4 separate regions of the Homo sapiens genome follow, and regions 2, 3 and 4 are each reported to be linked to region 1. The links are microRNA targets in miRTarBase. Many come from high-throughput screens and were not tested one by one. Region 1 holds a microRNA gene; each other region holds the end of a gene's coding sequence.

Region 1 (7,120 bases):
GTGGGTGGATCAGCTGAGGTCAGGAGTTTGAAACCAGCCTGGCCAACATGGCGAAACCCCATCTCTACTAAAAATACAAAAATTAGCTGGGCATGGTGGCACGTGCCTGTAATACCAGCTACTTGGGAGGCTAAGGCAGGAGGATTGCCTGAACCTGGGAGGCGTAGGTTGCAGTTAGCCGAGATTATCCCACTGCGCCACAGCCTGGGCAACAGAGTGAGACTCCATCTCAAAAAAAAACAAAACAAACAAACAAACAAAACAAGAACAACAACAAAAAACTGGCATTTAAGAATTACAGGTTGGGCCCACCATTTCCTTATTCCCTTCCAATCTTCCACATATTATGGTTGAAGTAAAAAATGTAGAGACTTGCCCAAGTTCACAAAGCTAGTTGGTGGCAAATCTGAGGCTTAAGTCAGGTCTCTTGGTATTTACTTTAGTGTAGTTTCTTTTATACCTGGTTTTAAGTCACTTAATTTACTCCTCAAAATAAAGGGCGTTAGCTAATCTTTAAGATCCCTTCTAATTCAAAATTCTATAGCTGAACTAATTTCATGAAAATGAAAGAATATTCTTTATAGGTAGAGTGATAAAAGGTAAAAGGAAAGATTATTCAAACTTAATTTAATGTCTGTTTGCTTCTTTGTTATTAGGTTTTAAATACTCTTGAAAGTACTCAAGCCAGCTTGTATTTTGCTGAAGATCCTCCCACATCACTAAAGTCCTTCAGGTGTCCTTCTCCTCTATTCCTGGAGAATGTACCAAGTATTCCAGTGGAAGATGATGAAAGCCAGAATAACAATTTACTACCTTCTGATGAAGGCCTGAGGATAGACAGAATGACTCAGAAAACTCCTTTTGAATGCAGCCAGTCTGAGGTTATGTTTCTGAGCTTGGACAAAAAGCCAGAGAGCAAGAGAAATGAGGAAGCTTGCAACATGCCCAGTTCTTCTTGTGAAGAAAGTTGGTTCCCAAAGTATATAGTTCCATCCCAGGACTTAAGGCCCTATAAGGTAAATATAGATCCTTCTTCAGAAGCTCCAGGGCATTCTTGCAGGAGCAGGCCAGTGGAGAGCAGCTGTTCCTCCAAATTTTCCTGGGATGAATATGAACAGTACAAAAAAGAATAAATTCTACCAGAAGATAAAGAAAAAAGCAAGTATTGCATAGGCACCTGAGCATAGGTATGACCTTGGGAAGACATTGGCTCCATAAGCAATGCCAAGAGAATGATCAATAGTGAGTTTGGGTGATGCAGATAAACAATCTGGATAATTCCATTTCTTTTTTCCCAAACCCTCAAACAGAGTGCCTTAAAAAATTGTTTTATCAGGATAATTGTCTCATGACCAAATCCACGCTCAATTAGAGCCATTCAAAATTCCTTAAGATCATGGGTTCTGACTTCAGCCAAACAAAACAATCAAAACCTACCAAAAAGGGACTGGATTGTAATGTCCTCTCCATCATCCTCAGTGTGAGTCCTCAGAGCCTCCATCTGCCAAGAACATTCAGTTGGATTCCATCGTTTGGTTTAGCTTGCTTGCACGGGTTGTAGGAAATGTCTAATTTGTAAATGTTAATAGATACCTTTGGAAAGAATCACCTTGTTATTCTGATTGACCCCTCTTGTTTTTTGGTTAATCCCTGACTAGCCTGCTTGTCTGAAAATGAGCCAGGTTCACCCTTAGCTACGGCATGCTCTGGGTTGAAAGGGGATTTCTTCCCAAGATCTATCCTAAACTCTTAGGACAGTTTATCCTGTATTGACTATTATTACAGCTTTTTAAAAACAGACTTAGTGACCTATTATATCTTAAGGAGACTATGTGAAATGTCCATCAAGTAATTTTTATTCCTGAGAAAATGGCTGGTCAAGGGCCTAGGTCAGCTTTTTGTTTAATCTACACCTTTCAACTCTGGGCCTTCATTCCTGCTGTTTCTTGGATCTCCCTCTTTTGAAATCCTACCAATCATCAGAGCTCTACAAAACAGCCACCTCCTGGAAGCTTCCCTAATCTCTACAACCAGAAGTACTCCCTTTATCAGTATTTCCACAGCAATTTCTTTGTATTTCTATTTTATATTTATCACTTTCTGAATTATATCAAAGCTGCTTGTCTTATCTCTTTTTTTTTTTGAGACGGAGTCTCGCTCTGTCATCCAGGCTGGAGTGCAGTGGCACAATCTCGGCTCACCGCAAGGTCTGCCTCCCGGGTTCACGCCATTCTCCTGCCTCAGCCTCCCGAGTAAAGGTGGGACTACAGGCGCCCGCCACTACGCCCGGCTAATTTTTTGTATTTTTAGTAGAGACGGGGTTTCACCATGTTAGGCAGGATGGTCTCGATCTCCTGACCTCATGATCCGCCTGCCTGGCCTCCCAAAGTGCTGGGATTACAGGCGTGAGCCACCGCGCCCAGCCTTCATCTCTTTTACTAGGTTGTAAACTCCCTATATTAGTTTTCTATTGTTTTTGTAACACATTATCACAAATTTAGTGACTTAAAGTAACATAAATTAATTATTTTGCAGTTCTGGAGGTCAGAATTCCTTAGCATTCTTTCTGGAGGCTGTTGGGGAGAACTCACTGCCTTGCCTTTTCCAGCTTCTAGAGGCCACCTGCCTTCTTTGGCTCATGGCCTCTTCCTCCGTCTTCAAAGCCAGCAACGTGACATTTCAGATCTCCCTCTCTCTGTCTGTCTCACCGCATCTCTTCACTACCCTCTTCCTCTCATTCTGGCCCTTCTGCATGTCTTTTATAAAGACCTTTGTGATTTCACTGGGCCCACTCATATAAGCCAGGAAAATCTCTGTGTCTCAGATCCTTAATTTAATTACACCTGCAAAGTCCGTTTTCTCGTGTAAAGTAACATATTCACAGGTTTCTGGAATTGGGACGTGGACATCTTCGGGGGACCATTACTCTGTCTGTCATACTCCCTGAGTGTGTAAGGGCCATCTCTTCAGAGCCTAATGTGTCATCCTACACAGAGCAGGTGTTTCCTTATAAATTAAGTTGAATTAAATTACCCCTATGAAGCCACATAATCAATAATTCAGCTATAATAAACATTGCCGAATAAATTAACAAAGGGAGGATAATGACTCCTTATGATGATGGATAGAAACACTGAAGAAAACCATTTTCAGAGGATTTACTGAATTTTCCTCTCCAAGGAGCTTGTAATAGAAGGGTAAACCTCTAGTTTCTTGTCCAGCAGAGGAATAGGCTCATGTCTTTTGTTTTATTTTATTTTTTTGGTGAGTCAGTATGGTTGGGTTAATCATATTCACATTAGATTCCATGTTGAAGAACAACTAATCAAAGAAGAAAATCATCAGGAATCAGGGTGAGATTAACAGACCAAGGTCAGAAACATGGAGTTACAATTTTCCAAAAAAGCACGAAGTGAGATTAAAACCACAGTAAGTCTTAGTCTGACTGACAGGCTTTATACAGGCCCTCGGTAAGCAGTTGGGAGAACCCATGCCCACCACTGCTCTGTACGGTATCTGGCTGCTCAGAGCTCTCTGATTCACAAAAGAGATCATCAAGAATTGACTCTGTGTTAAACTGTTTTTCACTTAGAATATGGACCCCCACCAATACATTCAATGAAGGGTCATTAAGGAAGCTCTGATTAACACCAGGCCCATGCAGTTACTCCGCACATATAATCTGTGGGTATTATGTTGATTTGAACTTGCTTAGCTGACTTAAAGCAGGGTTTCTCAAACTGTAGTATGCATCAGAATGACTTGGAAAGCTGGTTAAAAACGCAGATTGCTGGGTCCACCCAGCTTCTGATGCAATAGGTCTGGGGTTAGAAATTTTGCTTTCTAATGAGTTCCCAGGTGATGCTGATGCCAATGATGTGAAGCCCGCTCTTCACATCCGTGAAAATCGCTGCCTTAAGGTGCTCTTAAATTGTTATAGATTGGTAGATCCTACCTTTCCATCACTGGTATGTTTTTTGAGAAAAGGATCCTTTCTTTTCATTCTGTTATATTCATCCTATTACATAGGATGTTGGTTAGCACAGAGTGGGAGCTCTAGAAAGATTGTTGACCAATCATCTTATTGACTAGACCATCTTTCTAGAGTATAACTATTTTGGACACCTCAAAGATGAAGTCAGATAAGCTGGCAGTGACCTGATTAACGTTGTGGTAAGCAGATGCCACTGTGGCTGGGAAGTACCAAATCTTCTGTTGAGTGATTCAGTCTTCCTGACTAGATTTGCCTTCTAGTGGGTGTATTAATAAGCGTTAGTTGATATGAATTAAATGTTGCAACTTTCTATGGGTAATAAGAGGATACCTTTATAGTTTCATGATGTGGAGACCAAGATACATAAGAAAGCAAGAATGAGTCTCCGGGTGTTCCCTCTGATCAGCAAACATGAATTCATAATTTCATTTACTCTCATTTTTGTAATGCACTCTGAGCAATCCTCCAGGCAGATCCTATTTACTAAGCTTCAGGCTTTTGTCCCATTTTATAATGCCCAAACACATGGAGAAAACATTTTGTTGTTTTTAAAAACAGGTATGGGATTTCTGATATAATCAATTTTATTGACTTCTTGGGAGTTGTAATGATCTGTGACTCACTGCATAATATTGTAGTTTTATAGGGTGGCACATCACCCTGTGTAAAACAACTTTAATGACCTGAGGACTGATGAGTACAGGAAGTGAGGTTTATCATGAGTAGCATTTATTAAGCATCTGCTAGAATCAAAGCACTGCATTAGCTACTAAGGTACAAAGTAAGACACAGTTTAATAAGGAAGACAGGGCATCTACCCAAGTCAACAGTTCAGTGACATCTGTTATTTGAACCACACACCAATGCAACCGAAGTAAATGCTGAAAGGGTGAGAAGAAGGAATAGATTACTATGCATTTTTGAGAGGATGAAGAAGGCTTCTTGGAGAAGGTTTCTGAAAAGAGATACGGAATTAAGAGAAATAGAAAAGAGCACTGACGAAGCACTCAGGATGGCTATTCAAGGAATTGGGGATCCACAGCAGCTGTGCACAACCATCCCTAATGCCAGAAAAATGGGGTAAGGGTGAAGGGAACTGGGTCTAGAGCTTTGCATGTTTTTTTCTGGTTAACCCTTAGAGTCACCCTGAAGGTGTGGATCCCATCTTATAATAAGGTGAGGACACTGAGTCAGGAAACTAACTTGCTAAAATCAAGTCCTCCCAGTCCTCCCATCAGGTCCTTCCAGATCTGGAGGAGCCAGGATTTGAACTCACATTTGTCTGACTTCAAAATCCATGCTTTTTCTTGTGTTCCAAATTGCACAATGGAGTCACTGCCAGTTCAAGCTCCTATGAAAAGGGATGGATGTGAAAAGTCATTTGTTGATTCCACAGATTTTTAGTAGGTACCATGTCTCCTGCCTTTATCACTATCCTACTCCTCTGCTACAACTTCTCTGCTACAGGCACCCACTGCAGTTACTTGATATGAGTTAAATGAATCCATCCATCCAAACTTCCATTCATTGAATAAATACTTAGCAATGGCTTCCTTTGTATCAGGCACTATTCTAGGAGCTGGGGCTACAGTGCAGATGGAAACCAGCAAAGCTCACTGCCCTCATGGAGCTTATATGTAAGTGAATAAATCTCAGGGTGGTTCTCCTGTCATAGGTCCTGGCTCCTCTGCCAGCTCTTCCAAATGGGTTCAGAGAGGTTTTCTCCTTGTCCTGTTGTGTAACTGATAATCCCATGGTGGACCTCACTTTGCTATTCATATGCACTAAGTAGTTTATGGTGTGCTTTGTGGCTGGCAATTGTGACAGATTCTATTCTTCTATTGGTATGTGGTTTCTTTGGGGCATTTGTTTGGATACTGATGGCATCTTCCGGGGGTCTGAGGCACCTACACAAACCTCAGGTCACTATCACGTGATACTGGAGTTGCCTGTTAAATTATATTTCTTCTTCCACAAAACTGCAGGTTCCCTGAGGGAAAGGTCTATGTCCTGCTCATTTTTGGATCCCTAATGGCTGGCACAGTACCTGGTGCATAATATGGTTCAACAAATATTTGTAAAATGAATGAATCAAATAGTCCTTCAAAGCATCTTCAGAATCAAGATTGTCATCTAGATTGCACCCGAAGTTTATCTTTCTAGTATTCAGAATATAATCAATCATTGCTTAAATTATTCCATTTCATCATTCTTGAATAAAAGCTACTAATTTTAAATACTAATATCTGAGATATCTTCGAAAAGAAGATTAGTCGTTGTATGTGTTGCTTATAAATTTTCTCTATGGTGGAAAATATTCCCAAACCATGTCTAAGCAATGAAAAACCAGTGTTCTGGCAGGAAATAAACTGATGTTTGTTGTGTTTTGTATCTGTCTTCCCGTTCCAAATCATTTATATATACTTGATGGTCTGTGGGCTTGACTTGCAAGTATTTTCCTGGGAGACATTTTTATTCAAAAGACCTGTATTGCCTGCCAAACCTTCATTTAAGAGACTCATTATGGATGTCATCTGCATCATTGCAAACTTTTCTGGTCGTCTCTATAAATAGCAAGATAATATTTACAGAGTTTTACATTGGCTCTTGAATTTTAAAATATTCTTATAGACAAACATTAATTGGAATGGGGGGTAAGGAGGTAGGAATGGCTTACTTGCGGAAATGCAGGCTCATTGTTGTGTCTAGTAGGTGCTAGGTGCATTCACACATCTCTTAAGCTTTAAACAACCTATTGAGCCGGTTTCCATTTCCTTGATCTATTAGATTTAAAAAAATGAAGCATAAAGGAGTTGGCTCTTGCCCTAAGTCATACTACTGATGGAATGAGAATACAAACCAAAAACACTTTATTCAAGTCCAGGAAATATCTGCCTTGAAAAAGAATAACTTAAAAATTAAAAGTGTCCTCTATTTGAACATGAAAACAGCTAATAAAGATGTGTTATTTTATTTTATTATTATTAATTTTGTCCTCCCATATTGGCAAAGATAAAGCAATTGACAAAAATGGAATTCTTGTTCAATACTGGCAGGAGTGAAAATTGGTAGAACCTTTCTAGAAGGCAATTTGGCAACATGTATGAAAACCTAAATGTTGATACA
Region 2 (7,120 bases), not on the chromosome of region 1:
GCAGGGATAAGTAGCATATTTGACCTTCACCATGATTATCAAGCACTTCTTTGGAACTGTGTTGGTGCTGCTGGCCTCTACCACTATCTTCTCTCTAGATTTGAAACTGATTATCTTCCAGCAAAGACAAGTGAATCAAGAAAGTTTAAAACTCTTGAATAAGTTGCAAACCTTGTCAATTCAGCAGTGTCTACCACACAGGAAAAACTTTCTGCTTCCTCAGAAGTCTTTGAGTCCTCAGCAGTACCAAAAAGGACACACTCTGGCCATTCTCCATGAGATGCTTCAGCAGATCTTCAGCCTCTTCAGGGCAAATATTTCTCTGGATGGTTGGGAGGAAAACCACACGGAGAAATTCCTCATTCAACTTCATCAACAGCTAGAATACCTAGAAGCACTCATGGGACTGGAAGCAGAGAAGCTAAGTGGTACTTTGGGTAGTGATAACCTTAGATTACAAGTTAAAATGTACTTCCGAAGGATCCATGATTACCTGGAAAACCAGGACTACAGCACCTGTGCCTGGGCCATTGTCCAAGTAGAAATCAGCCGATGTCTGTTCTTTGTGTTCAGTCTCACAGAAAAACTGAGCAAACAAGGAAGACCCTTGAACGACATGAAGCAAGAGCTTACTACAGAGTTTAGAAGCCCGAGGTAGGTGGAGGGACTAGAGGACTTCTCCAGACATGATTCTTCATAGAGTGGTAATACAATTTATAGTACAATCACATTGCTTTGATTTTGTGTATATATATATTTATCTGTGTTTTAAGATTGTGCATATTGACCACAATTGTTTTTATTTTGTAATGTGGCTTTATATATTCTATCCATTTTAAATTGTTTGTATGTCAAAATAAATTCATTAATATGGTTGATTCTTCAAATGGGTGTATTTTCATACAGGCTGGCTGGGTAGATACAATAAAATATGCCACTAATGTAAAAATACTTTCCTTAACATAGAACTCCATTGCAATGATTTGCTTATTTGCCAGAAATTGCTAGAGACAATGAGAAATATTGGGAATAATTTGCATTTTAAGATTTGAAAATATTATTACACAGTGAATATTTACATTACAGGAGACACAATAGAAATATGGTGAAAGGACATGAACAGTTTGCAGAGAAAAAAAACTACATTAAAAGAGGTTCAATCTCACTCATGATAATAGAAATACAAATTAAATAGCATGCATGCCATTTATAGTACAACCACTATGGAGGCAATTAGGTGATATCTATTACAGATGCATGTAGCCTTTCATCTATAAATTCTAGGCCTGGAAATGTGTCCTATAAAAATACTTGCCCACAGCTGGGCGTGGTGGCTCAGGCCTGTAATCCTAGCACTTTGGGAGGCTGAGGAGGGTGGATCACAAGGTCAGGAGTTCGAGACCAGCCTGGCCAATATGGTGAAACCCTGTCTCTACTAAAAATACAAAAATTAGCCGGGCATGGTGGCGGGCACCTGTAGTCCCAGCTACTCGGAAGGCTGAGGCAAGAGAATCACCTGAACCTGGGAGGTGGAGGTTGCAGTGAGCCGAGATCATGCCACTGCACTCCAGCCTGGGCAACAGAGTGAGACTCTATCTCAAAACAAAACAAAACAACAACAACCACAACAACAAAAACTTGCCCACGTGTGAAATAACTTACAAACAATATTATTCTCTGCAGCACTATTAGTAATACCAAAAGTCAAGAAACCATCTCGATTTTCCTAATTAGAGACAGTTGAGGCATATTCATATAAAGGAACACTATTCAGCTGGAGAAACAAATGAGACGGTATTTCTTTTTAAAAAGTTGAAAATAGGCAAGATACAGAGCAGTGTACATAAAATGCTACATTTGGGGTGAAAATGTTAAATAAAACTTACGTTTGTCCTTACTGTGTATAAATAAAGAATAAGAAATAAATTACAATGATTACCTGTATTTAGGAGAAGAAGGAAGACTGAAGAAGGAGATTAGGGTGGGAGAGATTTTATAGCTCCTCTAAAAATTTTTATATTAAATTGTGTGAATATTACATATTAAGATAATAATTTAAAATGTATCTAACGAGTCACAGTTATCAGAAATATGCATGAGGGAGTCTGGCTGGTGAAGGTCAAAAGGAACAGGAGACTGAATTAGCCTGCCCCTGGTTGGGATGTCTGCTTGGAGGAGGGCTGGAGAGAAGCACACCCGTGCCAAGGGAGAGGGTTCCTGCTCCTGGGAGATGCCAGTGATGGAGGGATTCCAGCTCTTCTAGCCAGGAACTCTCAGAAGTCACCACGGAACAACGTGGGGGCAGAGAAACTAAAGTTGAGGCTTGGTGGCTATCCCACTTTCGTCCACTGTAAGGGAGCAGAGCCACAGCCCAAAACTCTGATGCTAGTTCTACTACCATGTGTCATGTTCTACGTCAGATGCATTGCATAATTGGAGGTAAAAGTTAGTAGTAAATGTAAAAACTTAGGAACGAAGCATACTCCAGTTCAGTTTAATTAATGCAAATGAGTAATGGCTGCTACTTTAGACTTGGTTTGAAAGGGAAGAGTAGGAACCGAATAGGATCCTGAAAGTGAGACAGTCACCTGCAATAGTGAAGAAGGGTAAGGAAGCAGAGGCTGTCAATCAGAAGCAAGTCTTTGCTGACTTCACATTGCAGCCAGGGGTTGATCTGTTTACCTTCAAATTCACACAAAGGTAGTGAAGTGGAGGAAGGAGAAATACCACAAGGAACTGCAAATATAAGTTACTTTTCTTCTCATGGTCTAGAAAATTTTTTGTTGTTCTTTAAACCAGGAAGTTTTTGGAACCAAATCCTTCATTTAACACATTATCCAATTTTCAAATTGACCTTACCAAGTGCCTTCTGTAATTATTTTTTTCTCAAGTGAGAACAAGACTGTAAAGGTGAAATAACATGCTCAAAGTAATGTAGCAAGCCACAGAGCTTGCAGATACCAGAGCAAAGATCTTATCCCAAGTCAGCCTGACTCAAAAGCCTGCACTGTGTTGTTGACAACTCAAACCTGAATAGCATTGTGAAATATCACTGCAAAATAATAATAACAATAATAATAATTTTCTCCTAGCTTTCTTTATTCAAGTTTACAATGGTCTCTGAAGTCTTGAATTAAAGAAAAGATATTTTCCTTTCTCTTGACATTGCTTCCTTAAGAACTGAGAACAGAATGGAGGAACTGTCAAATGGAAACGTTTAGAAAATAATACTCATATTTAGAAGTTTAAACTAATACTTTATATACTAATGTTTTCCCAAACATTTAGGTTTATTAAGTTGATATCCTGTTGTATAACCACCTCAATGCCTAGCACAAAATAAAAAATTGTTACTTCTAAATATGTGTGCCCTTTTAAAACTCCAAAACCAGAGTTCTAAACTTGGGAATATTGGGAAGGAGAGACGTATTAAAAGATTGGACTCCTGGCTTAGTAGCACATGGAAAGGCTTGGAGTATGGGTAGGTTCATTTGTATTTGCAGGCTGAGTTATATTTTTGTTACATCTATATGTATTGAGCTAAACAAATCATTAAATCCAAAAGCAGGTTACAAAATAATAACAGCATCATCATATTTTCTACAAATAAAACATTCATGAAAAGTATATGAAAAGAAATGCATGAAAATGTTCATAGTACTACTGTCTTTGGGATAGAATTTACATTCACTTAAACTTTTTGGATTAAATATTTCTCCCATGAATAAGGATTCCTTTTAGAACCAGGAAAAAAAAATTATTATATTTTTGAAATTTAAAAAAAGAACAGGCTGGGTGCAGTAGCTCATGCCTGTAATCCCAGCACTTCGGGAGGCCAAGGCAGGCAGATTGCTTGAGCCCAGGAGTGTGAGATCAGCCTAAGCAACATGGTGAGATCCCATCTCTACTTTAAAAATTAAAAACAACTCTTGTAAAGGGCACCTGCTGTAAGTTAAGTCCCACCTCTAACATGAATCAGAATCACCTGGAGGATTTGTTAAAACCCTGATTGCATGGTCCCATCCCACTGTTTCTGATTCAATAGGTCTGTGGTATGGCCTGAGTAATTCCATTTCTAACAGTTCTCACATGATGCTGTTGCTGCTGGTCTTGTGACTACACGTAGTAAGCCGTACCCCTACTTCTTGATAGCCTTGGTAAGTTTTTAAGAGATGAAGGCATAGTTTTTTTAAGGCTACTGATCTCATATTTCTTATGACATCTGGAGAAAAGTTAGCACCCTAGATAGGAGTTAGTTGATGAAGATATATTTTTTTTCTATCACTGCCTTTTCACAGCAGCAAATCAGACATTTTCCTTATTAAAGAAGCTGTATGTAGCAACTGTCATATCCTAGGTGCACCCCATGACAATATCTGCCTTTTAAGGAAAATGGACTAAAGCAAGTTTTGTTTTGTTTTGTTTTCTCTAAGGTTTCTGGTCCTCATACCGTGTGGTTGAGTGAAATCAAAACTTCCACGATAGCAATGCTGATTGGACAAAGAATGTGTTGTGGACACAAAACCAAACTCTGGAGGACAGAGGATTCATTCCAAGGTGAAAAATGGCAAACTTATCCAGTGATCTCCTCTATAGAGAAGTATAAATGTTTGGTAAATAGAGTTGGGGGCCATTTGTGGAATTGCCTTTGGCTAAAGTCATTTAGCCCAAGTTTTCTACTCCTCCCTAGGGTCTGCTTGTATTCAATGACTGGTCTACGTGGGGGTGTGAAGTCCCCTTACTCCACCTGTGAAGAGTCTTCCCAGTTTCAGACCACCCTCCCAGCCTCCTGTTATTGGCTAAGGCCATTTTGTGACTACACTGCAGGTTAGCTTTCCCCTTTGCCTAATCGTCCTGCCTTTTCTTCTCACAAATGTGATTCCATAGCTCTCTCCAATAAACTTGCATAAGAATCCTCATCTCAGAATTTGTTGTCTGAGCTTCAATTTAGGGCCACAGAAAACCTAAGCTCATAAGCTGTTTCTTTTGCTAGCTACATATTCTTTCCCTTATATGTGTTAATAACATTTCTGTTATTCATGATTCACTTAAAATTTTTCCCTTCACGGAGAGCCTTTATAGTCTGATTTGTCTGAACCTATTTGCTACTTGCCCATAGCACAAATCTTACCATGTCACTGACCTCATTGTACTGTAATGGGTTACTTCTCTTTCTTCCAACTAGAGTATTACCTACTTTGTAGTAAGGACATGGCTTCTTAACTCTTTAGCACATTATTCAACATTTAACAGGGACACTCTAAATATTGAATGAATGCAGACTTTTTAAAATATAGCATTAAAGGAAAGAAGGGAGATACCAGTACCATATTGTCATGGCCAATTAGACATATGAGGAGACTGTCTAGAAATGAAGCCTTTCTTGTTTGTGTGGTGTGCTAAGAAGTTAAGTTCTGATGTTTGTTTTTGAGACTCTCCATTATTCCTGGATGGACCATTTAGATATGCTACTTCTTAGAGTGAAAAATGAAGTATTTATCTTTTTCCAGTGAAATGGTGGGTTTTACACTTATATAGCAAGGGCACAATAAAATAAGAACATAATGTGTAGGGCAGAAGTCCAGATGGGAGCCTCTCTTCTAACTAATGGTTCTGATCATCTTAGACAATGCTTTCCTGAACTTTTTTTTTTTTTTTTTTTTTTTTTTTTTTGAGACGGAGTTTCACTCTTGTTGCCCAGGCTGGAGTGCAATGGCATGATCATGGCTTACTGCAACCTCCGCCTCCTGGGTTCAAGCGAATTTCCTGCGTCAGCCTCCAGTGTAGCTGGGATTACAGGTGCCTGTCACCACTCCCAGCTAATTTTTGTATTTTTAGTAGAGACAGGGTTTCACCATGTTAGCCAGGATGGTCGTGAACTCCTGACCTCAGGTGATCCACACACCTTAGCCTCCCAAAGTGCTGAGATTACAGGTGTGAGCCACCGTGCCGGGCCGACCCCACTCTTATGATGTGTCTTTCCTCCCAGTCAGCCGGGGTTGATGGTTGGTTATATCTTCAACTGCCAGGTAATACAGAAACCATTAGCACCATCTTGAGCAGTTCTAAAAGGATCTGTTTTTTGCTCAGCTTTTTAAAAAAACTTAAATTATGAAAATATTAGAACAGTACATGCCAATGGCATAAATGGCTCAATTTTACAATTTTATAAAATATAACACTCTTCCCATTATTCTAGTCAAAAGGCCACTCATTTGTTGTCCAAAATAGGTGGCCACTAGCTATTAATAAAGATTTGGTGGCAATTTTCTTCATTTCTTTGGATTTTATACATGAAGCATTATGAGTAGGCAGAAGATAGCCAGCATGTAGTAAGTGTTTAGAGGTAAGTAGCTAGGGTTACGTAGTAAGTATGCAGGAAGGGACCATAACACAATAACAGTCCTATGAATTTTGCCTTCAATGCAAAAAGAATCCAGTTTCTTAGAGGTGTGAAAAGCTGTTCAGTCAATTTAGGTAGAGATGTTTATCTCTTGGAAAGGATGAAGTGAGGTTTAAATAGAACAAAGGACAGGATTCCGTTGACTAATAAATCATGTAACTTTAGTCTACATAAGAGAGGTAAGCATACATTGTTTTAGTGAAATTTATTCCAAGTTATGTTTCAATATAAGCCTTACACAAAATAAAATATAGATCCTTGGAGAAAATTTAATTACTCTAAGTAATTAACTCTAAGATGAACAATGCAGTTACCAATCTGTATGAAAACATTTGGGATCAAAGTGAATTTATTTTGAAAGCACTGAGAATTGAATTCTTAGCTGGTGTATTATTCAGTGTATCAGATCTTTTTAAAAAAGTAATAGTTCCTAATCCACTCTCATTACTTTAGACGGAGGAATGAGTATCCGAGAAAGAGGCTAGATGAAATTGGAAAGAAATAAGCATATTTCCAGACTCAATGGTGGGATTTGAGGAGACATACTTTGAAGGACCCATTTGTGCCTAGTAGAGGGGGAAAAGAAAGATAATACACTCTGTGGATGGGATAGAGATCAGGAGCAGAAATAACTAAAATAATAAAAATGTACCTGAAATGCCTCTGGCTAAGTGGGTTCTTATTATGGGTTCAAATTAGAGAGGCAAAGAGAGGATT
Region 3 (7,120 bases), not on the chromosome of region 1:
ATCCCACAGTTTCTCAGTATCTGGCATGTAAACCCTACCTTTTAAAATTTGTTTTATTTAAAAACTTTTCAGATGGAGCCAAGATTTTGAATCTGCAGGGATCACAGCTCTGTGTGCCCTCAAAAGGGTGGGCAGCAGAGTCCTTGGAGAGGGTGCTATCCAAGGGCCGGCTCCTGGCAGGTGGGGACAGGCAGAGTAGGGTGCGTGTGGGCAGGGTGGGGCTGTGCTCAGTGCCTGCACAGCCTCACCGCCCTGGGAGCCCTGGGATTTAACCCGCCCTTTGTCTCTACCAAGCCCCACCCATATGGGACATGTGGAAGAAGGGCATCCAGGGACAGACCACACCCTCCCACAGCTCCGCACCCGGGTTTCAGGATGAAGCTGTTGATGGCGTCCACACACGTGGTTCCTTGGCTCTGGTCAGTGCTCAGCACAGACTGACGAAGCATCGACCTTGGGAACAAGCCCAGTCCTGCTTAGATTTACATCCACACCCTAGAAGCCATGGCTTCTCCATGTCTTGATGCCCCAGGCCACCTCGAGGCCTTTAAGCGGGGAGAGCGCCTCCTAGAAGAAGCCCAGTCGCTGAGGGGCATAGCCTGTTTGTAAGCACTACATGCAGCTGAAAGAGCAAAGCAGCCCCTCCCCCACAAAACCACAAAACTCAAGCCAGCCTCATAGGGCTGCCCTGCCTGGGCCCAAGCCTCCCTCTCACCCTTATCAGGGATTTGTCCAAGCAAAGCCTGTGCTAAAATAAGCCAGAATAATTCTTCCCCAGCCACACCCTCCAGTCCAGAGGCCACATTGAAGGATGGCTCTGGTATAGGGCTGTCAGAGGGCCGTGCAGCTTAGCCCTGCCCTGCCCTGCCCTCCTCTGCTCGGCTCTGCCCGCCCCTCAGTCATGTTTTTGGTACCCACAGGTGTGACGAGTACATTACACAGCTGGATGAGATGCAGCGGCAGCTGGCGGCTGCTGAGGACGAGAAGAAGACGCTGAACTCGCTGCTGCGCATGGCCATCCAGCAGAAGCTGGCGCTGACCCAGCGGCTGGAGCTGCTCGAGCTGGACCATGAGCAGACCCGGCGTGGCCGTGCCAAAGCCGCCCCGAAGACCAAGCCAGCCACACCGAGCGTAAGTCACACCTGTGCCTGTGCCAGCGACAGGGCCGAGGGCACCGGGCTGGCCAACCAGGTGTTCTGCAGCGAGAAGCACAGCATTTACTGTGATTAGGGGCTGTGGGGCGCCGCACGCTGCAGCTAACATCTGCTTCACCTCAACTAACCCAGCAGCAGCGGGACGGCGGTGCTAGGTCAATCTTAACGTGACTAATGCACAGAGGGTAGGAGTCTAGCCGAGGCGCCATGGGGCGTTGCATCAGCAGGACACTTGTGAGAGCTTTGTGTCGCTTCTCACTCCTCAAAGCCCCCTCAGGAGCACCCAGTCCTCAGCTGCTCTCTTAGGTGGGGGTCAGAGGTGGGGATAGAGCTGCACATTCTTGCAGCAGATGTGTGATGAAAGCATCTTCTAAGCCCTGCGCACCCGTGGGGAAACCCAAGGGAGGAGTCCTGGTCCTGCTCCCTCAGCACCCAAAAGGGGCAGAACCTGAGTTGAGACTTGCATGTTCCTCGCATGTGTCTAATGTCAGCACTAGAAAGCAGTTTTAGGAGGTTCCAGCCTGCAGCATAGGTACGACCTCAGAGGATGGCTTTGCACTTGGCATAGTTTCATGGAAAGGAGTACGTTGTAGTTTATGCAGTATCTGACTGCAAATCATATTCAGGAAAGAAGTGCAGAATTTCTTCCCCAAGCCCAGAGAAGAGCAGCCCTGAGCCCCTGTATTCTGCTGGCCAGACACACATGGCACAGACACAGCTGACCATAACCCAGGAATCCAGAGCTCGGTTTCTCATTTCTGAGATCAGGATGCTTGTATAGTGGCCTGTGAGGTGACAGATTGGCAGGGCCCAAGGCCCCAGGTTTTCATTTTTCATGAGAAAAGCTTTCCAAGTGCCTGGCCAGACCTTGGTCCTTAGTGCAGAGCCCGTCCTTTTGTACTTGGGGTGACCCCAGCAGCCAATTATCCGGCCTTCCATAGGGGGTTCAGTCCCAAAGACATGGGGCTTTGAAAACCCTAGCCTGAAGTCTGAGCCACCAAGGGCTTGGCTGGGTTGGACACCCACAGGTGTATCCAGAGCCCAGCCCGGTGCTGGGAAAGCTTTGCATAGGGCCAGGGCCACTTGTCAGGATTCACAGGTAGGAGATGTTTAGGTCTCTTTATTTAGTGCAATCTGGGGGATGGCAACAGAGAAAGAGGAAAGGTAGCTGTAGGGTTCTCCCATTTCCAGAGGCTCCATCCACACCTGCCTTCCCACATTCTGAGCAGAACTTTTCTCAGTACTTTTTTCCCGATCACCCTGTGGGACCAGCTGGACCTGAGGCTGCAGTCTTCTCTCCTGCAGGCTGCTTGCCTTGTCTCTCATGCGGAAGAGGCATTCGAGTTACCTGGTGAGAGACCGTGTTGCCCCCTCCCACAGCTCTCTGCCCTGCGCGTTCTTCCCTTTGGTGCCGAGTATGTTTCGGTCCCCTCCAGACTCCAGGACACGCCCATGTATGTCCCCTGCGTGTTCATCCTGGGCCCAGATCCCCCTGCCCCAGCAAGACTCGCAGTGGGATGGCTGCTGGCATGCCCACCCTGCATGCGCTTTGCCCTCTCCTTGCAAGCCTGGCACATAGCTTCTCTCCATACTCCTAAGGGACTTTGCAGACACCCAAGCCACTGGGACCCCTGCTAACACATGCAGGTCTTCTCTTCTGCCAACTAACGTGCTCGCGCCCTCCCAGCACGTGGAGAGCTTCAATTGTCAGATAAACAGGAAGCGACAGATGACCGCTTTCTAACGCTCTCTTTTCTCCCGTTTTCAGCTGTAGAGTAGCTGCCAGGAGGACTTGGCCACCCGGCCCTGTCACACTGCAGCCCCTTCCCCTTCCCTCTCGTGGCCCACAAGGAGGAAGGAAGGGCAACCTAAAAGCCCACTTAGAAACTTTTTGGATATGCCACTGCAATTCTTTTCAAAATAGCATTCCCCAGGTTTTTAATGGGAGGAAAAAAAGCTTTAATGTTGAGCATGCTGCGAGCTGCTGCGTGGAAAGGCCTCTGTATGGGCCGAAGACCCTTCTTCCCTGGCTGCCAGGCTCGCCAGGAGCCCACTGGAAACGCCCACCACGGGGGCTCCTTGTTACACATGTTCTTTTTTTATCCGATCAACCTGTGCACTTTTGATATTTTGATATTATATTTGCTTCCTTAATTCCTCGCGTAGAGACGGTCTCAGGTGCCGTGGTCTATGCTCGTGGTCCTGTAGCTGTCCGCCTCAGCTCCCACCGTGTTTGTCTGGTGTCAGCACGAGGCAGAGCTGTGTGCTCCATAGCGTGTAGCTTTAGACTCGGAGATGAGTGCTTTGACCCAGCGAGGAGCTCAGCTAAGTGTATCCACGCTGTGGTTCAGCAGCCTTTAGATCATACGGCATTGTGGTTCATGTTTGAAATTACAGATTTTAAATGCCATGTTCATTAAGAAATCCAGGGTATTCAGATTCTGGGGTTTTTCATATTGTATTATTATTATTCTTAGGAATAGTTCAATGTAACAAGAAGAAAACTTGACCTTTGCTCTGGTTAAAACAGTAATAGGCACTTGAAAAAAAAAGATAAATTATTGAATGAGTAGTATTACCTACAAATTCCAGAATTTTCTGGGTTTTAGGACGTTGTGAAGCATGACTGATTAACAGAATTTTATACAACTGTACCAATAAAATTCCAAATTGGAATTGTTTTGTTACTCTGGTTGTTGTGCCAAATTGTGGTACACTTAGAAAATTCTACAGTCGTCGATTTTTAGGGTGTTCTCTTTCAACACCTTTTTGTTAGTAATCATTGCCAGTAGTGCCTTCATCAGTTAAGGGAGGTGTCCCAGCACAGATCATTCTCAAAAGCGAGCAGGGAAGAGCTAGTGGGCATGCTGAAGGCCAGCGTGGACAGCAGGTGAGGCAGGTGCTCCTCACACCCAGACCTGGGCATCTTCATTGAGGGAAAGAAAACAGTCATTGTGCAAAATTCTGTTAGTCAGTGATTCTTTACTTGCAAATTCAGGGGCTTAGAAAATGAAAGCAAACACAAAACCTTGAGTGTGCTTTGGGAACCAAATGGACCTTCTGGGACAAGCTGAGCAAGCTGTATGAACGCCACGTTTGTGAAGAGCTGAGGGTATCAGGAGGGCCGACGCTGTGTTGGCATGCGCAGTAGGGGATGAGGGTTAGCCATAGTATTCTTTGCAAATGTGAAAGCGAGACATTATATCTTCTCTTGCTTGGTGTAACTAATCACTGTTAATTTCAGGAAACAGAACTCATTAAAACTCCTTAGCAAACCAGGTCTACATCCTGTTTTGTTTGCTGAGTGAGGTTAGTGGGAGTGGTCAAATTGGTACTCTTGGAGGAAGAAAAACTGTCCTTCCTTCTCCAAAAAAGGAAAAATTATAATAATATAAATGACAAAAATAAAAGAATTCTGTTTCCTGGAATAAGCATTTCTTATTCCTAGTTGTAGGGACTCCTATTTTTACCTTCCGTTACAGTGTTGATTCATAAGAAATATTGTTACATTTGAGATAACTTCATCTGTATGGGGTATTTATTTGCAATGATGTCTGAGTACTGTATTTTTTCTGTGCATTACCTTAGTGTCAGAATGTTGGTCTTTATTTTAAAGTCATATGCATGTTCTCCTGCCAAGGAACCTTTACACAGACCCAAACAAAAAAATAATAATCAAATGCCTTCAATTTCTGAGAAAATGAGGCAGAGCATGGAAAAGGAATAGGAAGGAGAAATTAATTGAGATTTTCAGGACACAGACATATGATGTGAATGCCTACAAAGCCAGTGCGCATAGGAACAGTGGGCCTGGGTAAAGAGTCACATTGGTAGGACCAATAAAGAATAATAAAAAGACAAAGCACATGTTTGTTCTCTGTGGTTGTTCTGACTCCGTGCTCCAGATAACTGTGGTTTAAGCAAGGCACAATAAATCCACTGCCTCAAACAACAACAGCAACAAGCCTATCAGGTAACCCTGGTAGTGGGAACTGGAAGCAGCCTGGGGTCCACCTTCAGGAGAATGGGGAGGGGTCATGTATATGTGGGGAGGCTGTCACTCCATCCCTGAAACAAGAATGTGTTCAAGGACCCAGAAGATGAGGGTAGGGAAAGGGTAGAGTTGGTGTCTGGGTGCTTGTGCCAATCAAATACACCACCAGGCAGAAGTGAGCCAGGCCACACTGGGCCACGCACATGAGTGGAGTGGAGGGCACAGACAATGCCCCCCCCTGGAAAGATGCCTGCCCCCCAGGGCCCTGACGCCTCATAACTCTGTCCTCAAGGGTCTTCTGAAGTGCAGCATCAGGTTTGAAGCCACAGCAGCATGTTGGTAAGAACACATTGTGTATACATAGACTAAAACTAGGAGTAGCCTATGCTATCCTGATGAGGAGGCAGGGATTCAGATGATGTAGAATCCTTTGCTGTCTAAACTCTCACTCTCTGAACCCAGGAATCACATTTGTCTGTAGGAATATGTACAAATATACAGTGGGCACGTTCATATGGTTGCTTGTGGGTGTGAGAAAAGGGGACAGTGTCTAGTCAAGGGGACAGTAAATACCAGGACACACTCCTGCCACCTCCTAGTCCGACAGCCTCAGTCAGGCCTGTGTGGCTTCACTCATGTAGGGCTTCCCTCTGGAAAGCCGTCTCAGGCTAGGGTCTTGCTGCCATGCCCCTTCCCCAGGACCCCTCCATCTGACTGCAGTCTCACTGCCATACCACCTTTCCTAGTTTCACTGTCACTGCAGAACCTCCAGCCTTTGATGATACTATTCTGCTTTAGTAGCAGCTGTTGGGACTTGTTTTCAGTTTAAACCATTCTTTCTGATGGAGTAAAAGAGGCAGTTGTCCAACTCCTGGAAAAGGTTGAAAAGAAAGCCCTGAACTGATCTAGAAGAACCTCAAGGAGAAGGGAGGTGTAAAGCGTCAGGGCCCTGTGGGGCAGGCTTCTTTACAGGGACAGTGTCTGTGCCTTCCACTCCCACACTTGTGCATGGCCCAGTGTGGCCTGGCTCACTTCTGCCTGGTGGTGTATTTGATTGGCACAGGTATCCAGACACTGAGTCTGCCCTCCCCCATCCTCATCTTCTGGGTCCTTGAACACAGTCTTCAGTTTCAAGGATGGAGCGGCAGCCTCTTGAGTGGGTGGGGTCTCAGGAGCTTGCAGAGGGGGACAGTCCATGCTGAAAGGCCTTCTGCTCAGCCTTCCCTCTGGGAGAGGGTGGTCTGCATTTCTTCTGCATCTTCCATCTCCCCGCAGTGTTTTCACCCCTACTTCCCGGCAGATTACTAGAGCTGGAAACAACAGCATGGACTTGAGAGCCGGACTGATGATTGAATCACCACCGTTTGGTAGCTGGCTGCCTTAGCTCTCTGAGCCTCAACTTCCCTATCTGTTAGGTGGGGACAAAATAGTGCCTCTTGTATAGGTGGTTGTGAAGCTTCATCAAGCCCTTGGTACCAGCATGCAGCAGGTACTCAATTGATGATTGGTGCTAATATGGTTCTTACTGTCATCATCATCACCAGTGCTTTGGACACAAGGCCATGTATCTAGGTCTTTGTCCTTTGGGGAATATAATTTTAAGCCAACTTATTAACAGAGTGTAATTTGCATCCAGGAAAGTGTGCACATCCTAGTATACAGGCCAAATTTGCACACAGTGAACACAGCTATGTAACTAGTAACCCCAAAGTTCTCCACCCCTACCCTCAGGTATGCTTTTTGGGGAGTATTTATCCTTCATCAGCACAAATTAATAGGGTGTCTGCTAGTCCTGGTGAGTCACTGGGCTGCCTTCTTCCCACAAAGCCTCCTAGGAGAACAGACATGCCACATCAGGTTTGCTTCATCAAAGTTTTTGTGAAATTTAGCACACATACATTAAAGTGCAAATAAAAGTGTCCACTGGCCAACTGGATTTTTGCAAACTAAATACTGTCACACTGTGTAGCCA
Region 4 (7,120 bases), not on the chromosome of region 1:
CTGGCTCAGTAGGCGTGGGGTGGTGGGGCCCAAGAATCTACATTTCTTTTTGTTTTTTTTGTCTTTTTTTGAGACAAGGTCTCGCTGTATTGCCTAAGCTGGAGTGCAGTGGTGCGATCATGGCTCACTGCAGCCTCAACCTCTTGGGCTCAAGCGATCCTCCCACCTCAGCCTGGAGAATAGCTGGGACTACAGGTGTGCACCACCATGCCCGGCTAATTTTGTTATTTTTTGCAGAGATGAGGTCTCCCTATGTTGCCTAGGCTAAGATTCTGCATTTCTACCAAGCTCCCAGGTGCTGTTACTGGCCCGGGACCGTAATCTTGAGTGTCTAAGGTCTAGAAAGCCTCTTGCACCCAGAAGTGACCCAGCCATGGATCCTGTATCAGACTGCTTGTTCTGACTTAGAATTCAGAAAATACACTCCCTGCAATATAAACCCCTGGTTCTGCAAACTGCCCTTCCCAGGAAAGGCAACCGTCCCTGCTAACCTCCTCCCCAGGAAACACACACAGTCACCATTGCCTGTCAGAGTGAAGACTATCACAGAGGTGACAGGGCTCAGTCCAACCCCGTGAAACCCCCAGTGAGGAGCCACAGTGGTTTGCTTCTCTGGCCTCTCCACTGTCTCTCCTAGCACCATTTTCCTGGCTGTTCTGTTGTTTTATAAACCGGTTCCTTGCAGGTTTCAGGTATGCTGTCTCTCCAGCTGCAGAGTGAGCCCCACGGCAGGGGCCGTGTGCCCACCACCTCAATGTTAGGTTTTGTTGGGTGGGTTGAATATGGCTTGAAATAAGGACCCACCTCCAGCAGCTCAGTGGTAGAAGGGGTTGTGGCTTTAGGATTTACTTTGTGGCTTGGTCACTCCTCAAGGGGCTGTGAAGCTGTCATTTTCCCACAAGCCTTGGCCCTCATGTCATTGCATGCTCAGCCTATTCCCAGCAGGCATGGAAACCACTCTTGGTGTCTCCAGACAAACTACGGAAAGGCAGCCCTGTGGGAACAGCAGGTATTCCTGGGATCCGCGGTGAGACTCCAGCTGGAGGAGTGCAGGAGGGTTCAGGCCACGGGCCCAGCAGCTACTGGTTGCCACCTGGCCTCCTGCTCAGCTCCCCCACTCCACCCAGGGTATCATTTTAGACTCCAGCACCCATTTTATTGCAAAGCCACTTACTCCTCCAGCCCTGCCTCGGTGCCTGGAATCTGCACATGCTGCCAAGGGCTGAGGCCAGAACAGTTTTCCAAACCTCTCTGACCATGGAACCGTACCCTGACCCTTTCTAATAGAGCATCTCATGGTCCCAGTGTTCTATGGAACACACTTTGGGGAAGGAGCTTGAATGGTGACTTAGAAATGATCTCAGAGTATGTGATGGGTCATTGTCAAAGAACCGACATCTAAAATTCTCCTAGAATAACAAATTAGCTAACACTGGAGGTTTATTAGGTGCTAGGCACTGTTCTAAACACCTTATAAGAATTCTGCGTTCACAGGCCAGGCATGCTGGCTCATGCCTGTAATCCCAGCACTTTGGGAGGCTGAGACGGGGGGATCACCTGAGGTCAGGAGTTTGAGACCAGCCTGGCCAACATGGTGAAACCCCATCTCTACTAAAAATACAAACAGTAACCGGGCGTGGTGATGCTTGCCTATAATCCCAGGTACGCGAGAGGCTGAGGCGGGAGAATCACTTGTACCCAGGAGGCAGAGGTCGCAGTGAGCCGAGATCGTGCCACTGCACTCCAGCCTGGGCAACAAGAGTGAAACTCTGTCTCAAAAGAAAAAAAAAAAAAAAGAAGTATGCATTCACTACTCACAACAACCCTATGAAGGGAGAGTTATTATTCCCATTTTACAGATGAAAAAATCAAGGCACAGAGACCTTAAGAAACTTTCCTAAGGTTGCCAAAGCTGTGAGAGGTGGAATAGGTGGATTTAACACCAGCCACACTGCTACAGATGGAAGGGGAGAGCAGAGACTCTCCGCCCCAGCTGCACCTGAAGTTACCTGGGAGAAAAACTATGAAGCCCAGACCAAACAAAACAGAAGCTTTGTGGGTGGGCCCCAGGCCTGTGAATGTTCCTGGATTATTGCAACGTGCAGCCAGCGTTGAGAGTGAGCAGGCTTGAGCAGGGGTTGGCAAACCGTGACCCTCAGGCCAAATCTGCCCCACTGCCTGGTTTTGCGCAGTTGGCAAGCAAAGAGCAGTTTTTGCACTTTTAAATGGTTTTAGAAAATTAAACTAATAATATTTTATGGCCAGGTGCGGTGGCTCACACCTGTAATCCCAGCATTTTGGGAGGCTGAGGCGGGCGGATCACCTGAGGTCAGAAGTTTGAGACCAGCCTGGCCAACATGGTAAAACCTTATCTCTACTAAAAATACAAAAATTAACCAGGTGTGGTGGCACATGCCTGTAGTCACAGCTACTTGGGAGGCTGAGGCAGGAGAATTGCTTGAACCTGGGATGAAGAGGTTGCAGTGAGCTGAGACTGAGCCACTGCATTCCAGCCTGGGCAGCAGAGCAAAACTCCATCTCCAAAAAAAAAAAAAAGGAAAGAGAGAATAATATTTTGTGACATGTGAAAAGTATACAGAATTCACATGTGTGTCCAGAAATAGTTTTCCTGGAGCATAGCCATGAATTCATTTACACACTCTCTGTGGCTGCTTCGAGCTACGGCAGAGCTGAGTAGCTGGTGGAGATCAGATGGCTTGCAAATCCTAAAATGTTTATTTGGCTCCTCACAGTAAAAGTTTGCTAAACCCTGGATTAGAGGAAACTGGCTTCTGTATGAGCAAAATAAATTTAAGATAGACCTAAGGAAGAACTTCCTGGCAGAGAGGTTGGTTAGACACTTGAGAGGGCTTTGGGATTCCCAGCTCTGGAGTTAAGAGGTTCCATCCACCCATCCCTCTTTGGAAATGTCAAATAGAGATAGCTAGGGCAAAGAGACGGGCCTTGAATTTCCAACCATGGAACTACCCTGGCAACCAGTGGCAGTTCTATGGGCATTTTAGCTTTGTCCTGACCCTCTGTGTTCTCCATGGCTGATGTCCTAGGACCATCTAACAGCTGTCCCCCAGCCATAGTAATGCTGGGCTTTCTTCCGGCGGTACTCCTTAGGGTTCTAGCCCCACAGAGCCAGCACAGTCCCGAGTCACCACTTAATGTGAGGCACACACAGCATGTGTGGGTTGTCTGGTCTCAAGTACGAAGCTGCTGGCAGATCTGCCTTTTTACATTTTTAAGTGTTTTATATTTTTGGAGTCTCACTCTGTCGCCCAGGCTGGAGTGCAATGGCGTGATCTTGGCTCACCGCAACCTCCGCCTCCTGGGTTCAAGTGATTCTCCCGCCTGAGCCTCCTGAGTAGCTGGGATTACAGGCACCTGCCACCATGCCTGGCTAATTTTTGTATTTTTAGTAGAGATGGGGTTTCACCATGTTGGTCAGGCTGTTCTCGAACGCCTTACTTCAAGTGATCTGCCTACCTCGGCCTCCCAGAGTGCTGGGATGTCAGACATGAGCCCTCGTGCCCAGCCTTAATTTTTGTATATTTGGTAGAGACCGGGTTTTGCCATGTTGGCCAGGCTGGTCTCAAACTCCTGACCTGAGGTGGTCCGCCCACCTCAGCCTCCCAAAGTGCTGGGATTACAGGCATGAGCCATTGTGTCTAGCCATATCTGCCTTTCAGCTAGCCTGCTTTGATCTCCCAGTTCCCCTGCCCTCCCTGCTCCCTCCCCACAAGGTTCCCATGCCCATCAAACTTGGATAGGGAGAGAACAAGCATATTTAATTTCTTCTAGATCTGCCTGCTTTCCTTGGTGCCTGACCCCTGACCCCGACTGATTTTTCCAACGCAGTAAACATCTCTGGCATCTTATGGGCGTGATCCAGGCCAGTGAGGAATTTGGCCAGGAAAGTCTTTTGTCATTTGCAACCTGGTTCGCCCTGGAACAGAGGGTTGGCCAGGAGTGAGATGCCAAGTGGGGGGATTTAAATGGTTCTCCTGAAGTGACCCCTGAAGCCAGATCTGCTGGGACAGATGTCCTGGGTGGGCATTGTGAGTCTGGCCTGTTAGGGGCAGTTAGCTTCAGATAGCACCTCAATTTCAGGTGAGCCTCAACTTCCCAGTGGGCTCTGCTGCAAAAATGTGGGGTGGGGTTCCAGGGATGGTTTTGTGGTCCTGGAAATCACTAAACAGTATGCAAAGTGGGTAAACATGGGCAATATGTGTGGGGTTTTTTTGGATTCCATGCTTGCATCAGAACCCCTGGGGGGGAAGTGCTCCAGAAAACTGTAAAGTGCCTGTCCAGGACTGGATGATCAGGACCACAGGGACATAAAGGCCAACATGATTCTTTTCCCCAAACACTTCTTATCCCAGGATATCAGCTACTAGACCACAGGGATCAACCTGCCCAACTTATTCCTGCAAGCAAGTATGTGCTTAAGTTGTATTTTGTTTTGTTTTTAAACATGATACACCTTTATCCAGGGAAGGCAGAGAACAGTCAAGTTATTCCAGCCACAGAGGAAGGGAATACCAGGGTGTGAGCCTCTCTTGCCAAAAGCCTTAGAGAATCTGGAAGAAATTCTTGGCTGTGGAGCAGCAAGAACGTGGGCCTTGGAGCTGGACAGCCTTGGCCCAGGTTCATGTCCTTGCTCTGCCATGTACTTCCCAGGACCTCTCAGTGGGTCCCTGGGCCAGCAGCCTCGCGTTCCCTGGGAGCTTGTTAGAGCACAGAGCCCACTGAGTCAGATGTGCTTTTTTTTTTTTTTTTTTTTGAGATGGAGTTTCACTCTTGTCCCCCAGGCTGGAGTGCAGTGGCACGATCTCTGCTCACTGCAACCTCTGCCTCCCAAGTTCAAGCGATTCTGGTGCCTCAGCCTCCGAGTAGCTGGGATTACAGGTGTGCACCACCGCGCCTGGCCTAATTTTTGTATTTTTAATAGAGACGGGGTTTCCCCATGTTGGCCAGGCTGGTCTCGAACTCCTGACCTCAGGTGAGCCACCCGCCTTGGCCTCCCAAAGTGCTGGGATTACAAGCGTGAGCCGCCGCGCCCGGCCAGATGTACATTTTTAACTGGACCTCCAGGTGACTCTTAGCATGTTCAGGTTTGAGGAGCACTGACCTGGGACCCTGGGCAAGTCGAGTCAAATAACTCCAGCGTGCCTCACGGTCCTCAACCTGTCGCATGGTGATAATGCCTACTTGAAAAGGTCGTTGTGATAATTCAATGAGATAATGTATTCCAGCACTTAGCACAGTGCCTGGTACATAGGAGATGTTCCATATTCATCTCCTGATGGTGGACCTTCTTTCGGGAAGTTTAAATTTCTTTTCCACTCTCAAAAACGCCTCTTGGTTTTGAACTTGAAGCTGTTGCAGTGCTGGAGTCGGACAGTAGAGGGCACTCTCGGCATTGCCATCGCGGAGAGCAAGACACGCGGGATGGAGGCTGCGTGGGTCCGGACTTCGTGTGTGCAGGTGCTGCGGGCCGGCTCCTGGGCACCCACCCAGCTCATTCGCCGAGCGGCTCCCCTCCTGGGGTTGAGTGTCCTGGGCCTGAGTCTGCAGCCTCAGCCATCTGTTCCCCAACTTGATCTCCCACTGCTAGTTACAAACAAATCGCCCGGCTTGTGCAAACCTCCTGGGCTCAGTCCCCAGTCCCGCGGGGCCGCTAGACGTTGATGAAGGATCCCTGGTCGCCGTTGGCCGTCTCGGGCTCCACACAGCGCCCTTTCCTCCGTGTAACCCTGCGGTTCCGGTGGAATTTGGCATAGCAGCGCAGCCCTGGGCGAGTGGAGGCAAGGGGGGTCAGAGGCGCGAAGGGCCCGTGCCCTCCCCTTCCTTCCCCTGCACGCTCGGGGCCAGCCAGCTCCCTCCTGCCTTCATTATTCTGCCCTACAACCCAGCTTCCTCACGGCAGCCCCAATGAGCTTAAAAGACACGAACCCGGAAGAGGGGAGGAATGAACACGGAAGGAGAACAGAGAAGACTCAGGGCGGTCGGGGCGGTGAACATATTCTGTGTGACACGTAATGGTGGGACATGGCATGCATTTGTCAAAACCCACAGAATGCACCGCACAGTGAACTATAACTTACGTTGACTTCAGTTAGTAATAATAATACATCACTATTGGTTTGTCAAGCAACAAATGTACCAAGAGAGGCCGGGCACGGTGGCTCACGCCTATAATCCCAGCGCTTTGTAAGGCCGAGGCAGGTGGATCACTTGAGGTCAGGAGTTTGAGACCAGCCTGGCCAACATGGTGAAACCCCGTCTCTACTTAAAAAAATACAAAAACTACCCGGGCATGGTGGTGGGTGCCTGTAATCCCCGTTACTTGGGAGGCTGAGGCAGGAGAATCACATGAACCCGGGAGGTGGAGCTTGCAGTGAGCCAAGATCATGCCACTGCACTCCAGCTGGGGCGACAGAGCTAGACTCCCTCTCAGAAAACAAACAAACAAACAAACAAACAAACAAATCTACCACATGATTGCAAGATGTTATTAATAGGAGAAACTGCATGCAGGGGCAAAGCAGGTATATGAGAACCACATTCTGTGAAATTTTTCTAGAAAACTGCTCTAAAAATAAAGTCCACAGGGTACGGTGGCTCACACCCGTAATCCCAGCACTTTGAGAGGCTGAGGTGGGAGGATCGCTTGAGCCCAGTAGTTCCAGACCAGCCTAAGCAACATAGGGAGACCCTATCTCTACAAAAAATGTAAAAATTAGCCAGGCATTGTGGCATACACCTGTAGTCCCAACTATAGGAAGGAGGGGCTAACATGAGAGGATCCTTTGAGCCCAGGAGTTCCAGGCTGCAGTGCGCCTTGGTTGCACCACTGTAGTTCAGCCTGGGTAACAGAGTGAGACTCTGTCTCAAAAAAATTAAAAAATAAAATACACAGATAAATTCAATTAAAAAGTCTATAATCTTGAAAATTGGAAAGGAAAAAGGTTATTAAATTTTTTTTTAAGTGGCTCAAATTCTGCCCTTCCCTGTAAAACATCCTATGGAGAGCCATTGCTTTTTTTTTTTTTTTTTTTGAGATGGAGTTTTGCTCTTGTCACCCAGGCTGGAGTGCAGCGGCACCATC

What was found. Region 1 holds the annotated microRNA hsa-miR-6502-3p (UAGACCAUCUUUCUAGAGUAU, at 4,090-4,110, shown strand). A microRNA usually pairs through its seed, bases 2 to 8, with sites in the 3' UTR of a target mRNA and lowers its output. Matches are read on the target gene's strand: a 7mer-m8 pairs with bases 2 to 8, a 7mer-A1 pairs with bases 2 to 7 and ends in A, and an 8mer does both.
Region 2: the mRNA of IFNE is a reported target of hsa-miR-6502-3p. The part of its 3' UTR that is shown has no 7-base or 8-base seed match.
Region 3: miRTarBase lists BICD2 as a target of hsa-miR-6502-3p. Seed matches in the 3' UTR shown: 7mer-A1 at 3,339-3,345.
Region 4: the mRNA of DRAXIN is a reported target of hsa-miR-6502-3p. Seed matches in the 3' UTR shown: 7mer-A1 at 4,404-4,410.

What each region holds. Positions count from the first base shown.
Region 1 is chr12:66,247,039-66,254,158 of GRCh38, forward strand. It overlaps MIR6502 (microRNA 6502), which reads left to right and starts at 4,044; the gene lies at 4,044-4,119. It overlaps IRAK3 (interleukin 1 receptor associated kinase 3), which reads left to right. Exons shown (of 12, transcript NM_007199.3): 12 at 657-7,120. The coding sequence ends at 1,133.
Region 2 is chr9:21,474,606-21,481,725 of GRCh38, reverse strand. IFNE (interferon epsilon) reads left to right here. Exons shown (of 1, transcript NM_176891.5): 1 at 1-887. The coding sequence starts at 32. The coding sequence ends at 658. It overlaps MIR31HG (MIR31 host gene), which reads left to right. Exons shown (of 3, transcript NR_152879.1): 2 at 4,434-4,557. Among named protein-coding and RNA genes, the nearest start is that of IFNE, 4.1 kb to the left of the region's middle.
Region 3 is chr9:92,709,264-92,716,383 of GRCh38, reverse strand. It overlaps BICD2 (BICD cargo adaptor 2), which reads left to right. Exons shown (of 7, transcript NM_001003800.2): 7 at 921-5,021. The coding sequence ends at 1,230. Among named protein-coding and RNA genes, the nearest start is that of IPPK, 43 kb to the right of the region's middle.
Region 4 is chr1:11,718,266-11,725,385 of GRCh38, reverse strand. It overlaps DRAXIN (dorsal inhibitory axon guidance protein), which reads right to left. Exons shown (of 7, transcript NM_198545.4): 7 at 1-5,802. The coding sequence ends at 5,690. Among named protein-coding and RNA genes, the nearest start is that of AGTRAP, 14 kb to the left of the region's middle. RefSeq lists an enhancer at 5,573-5,642.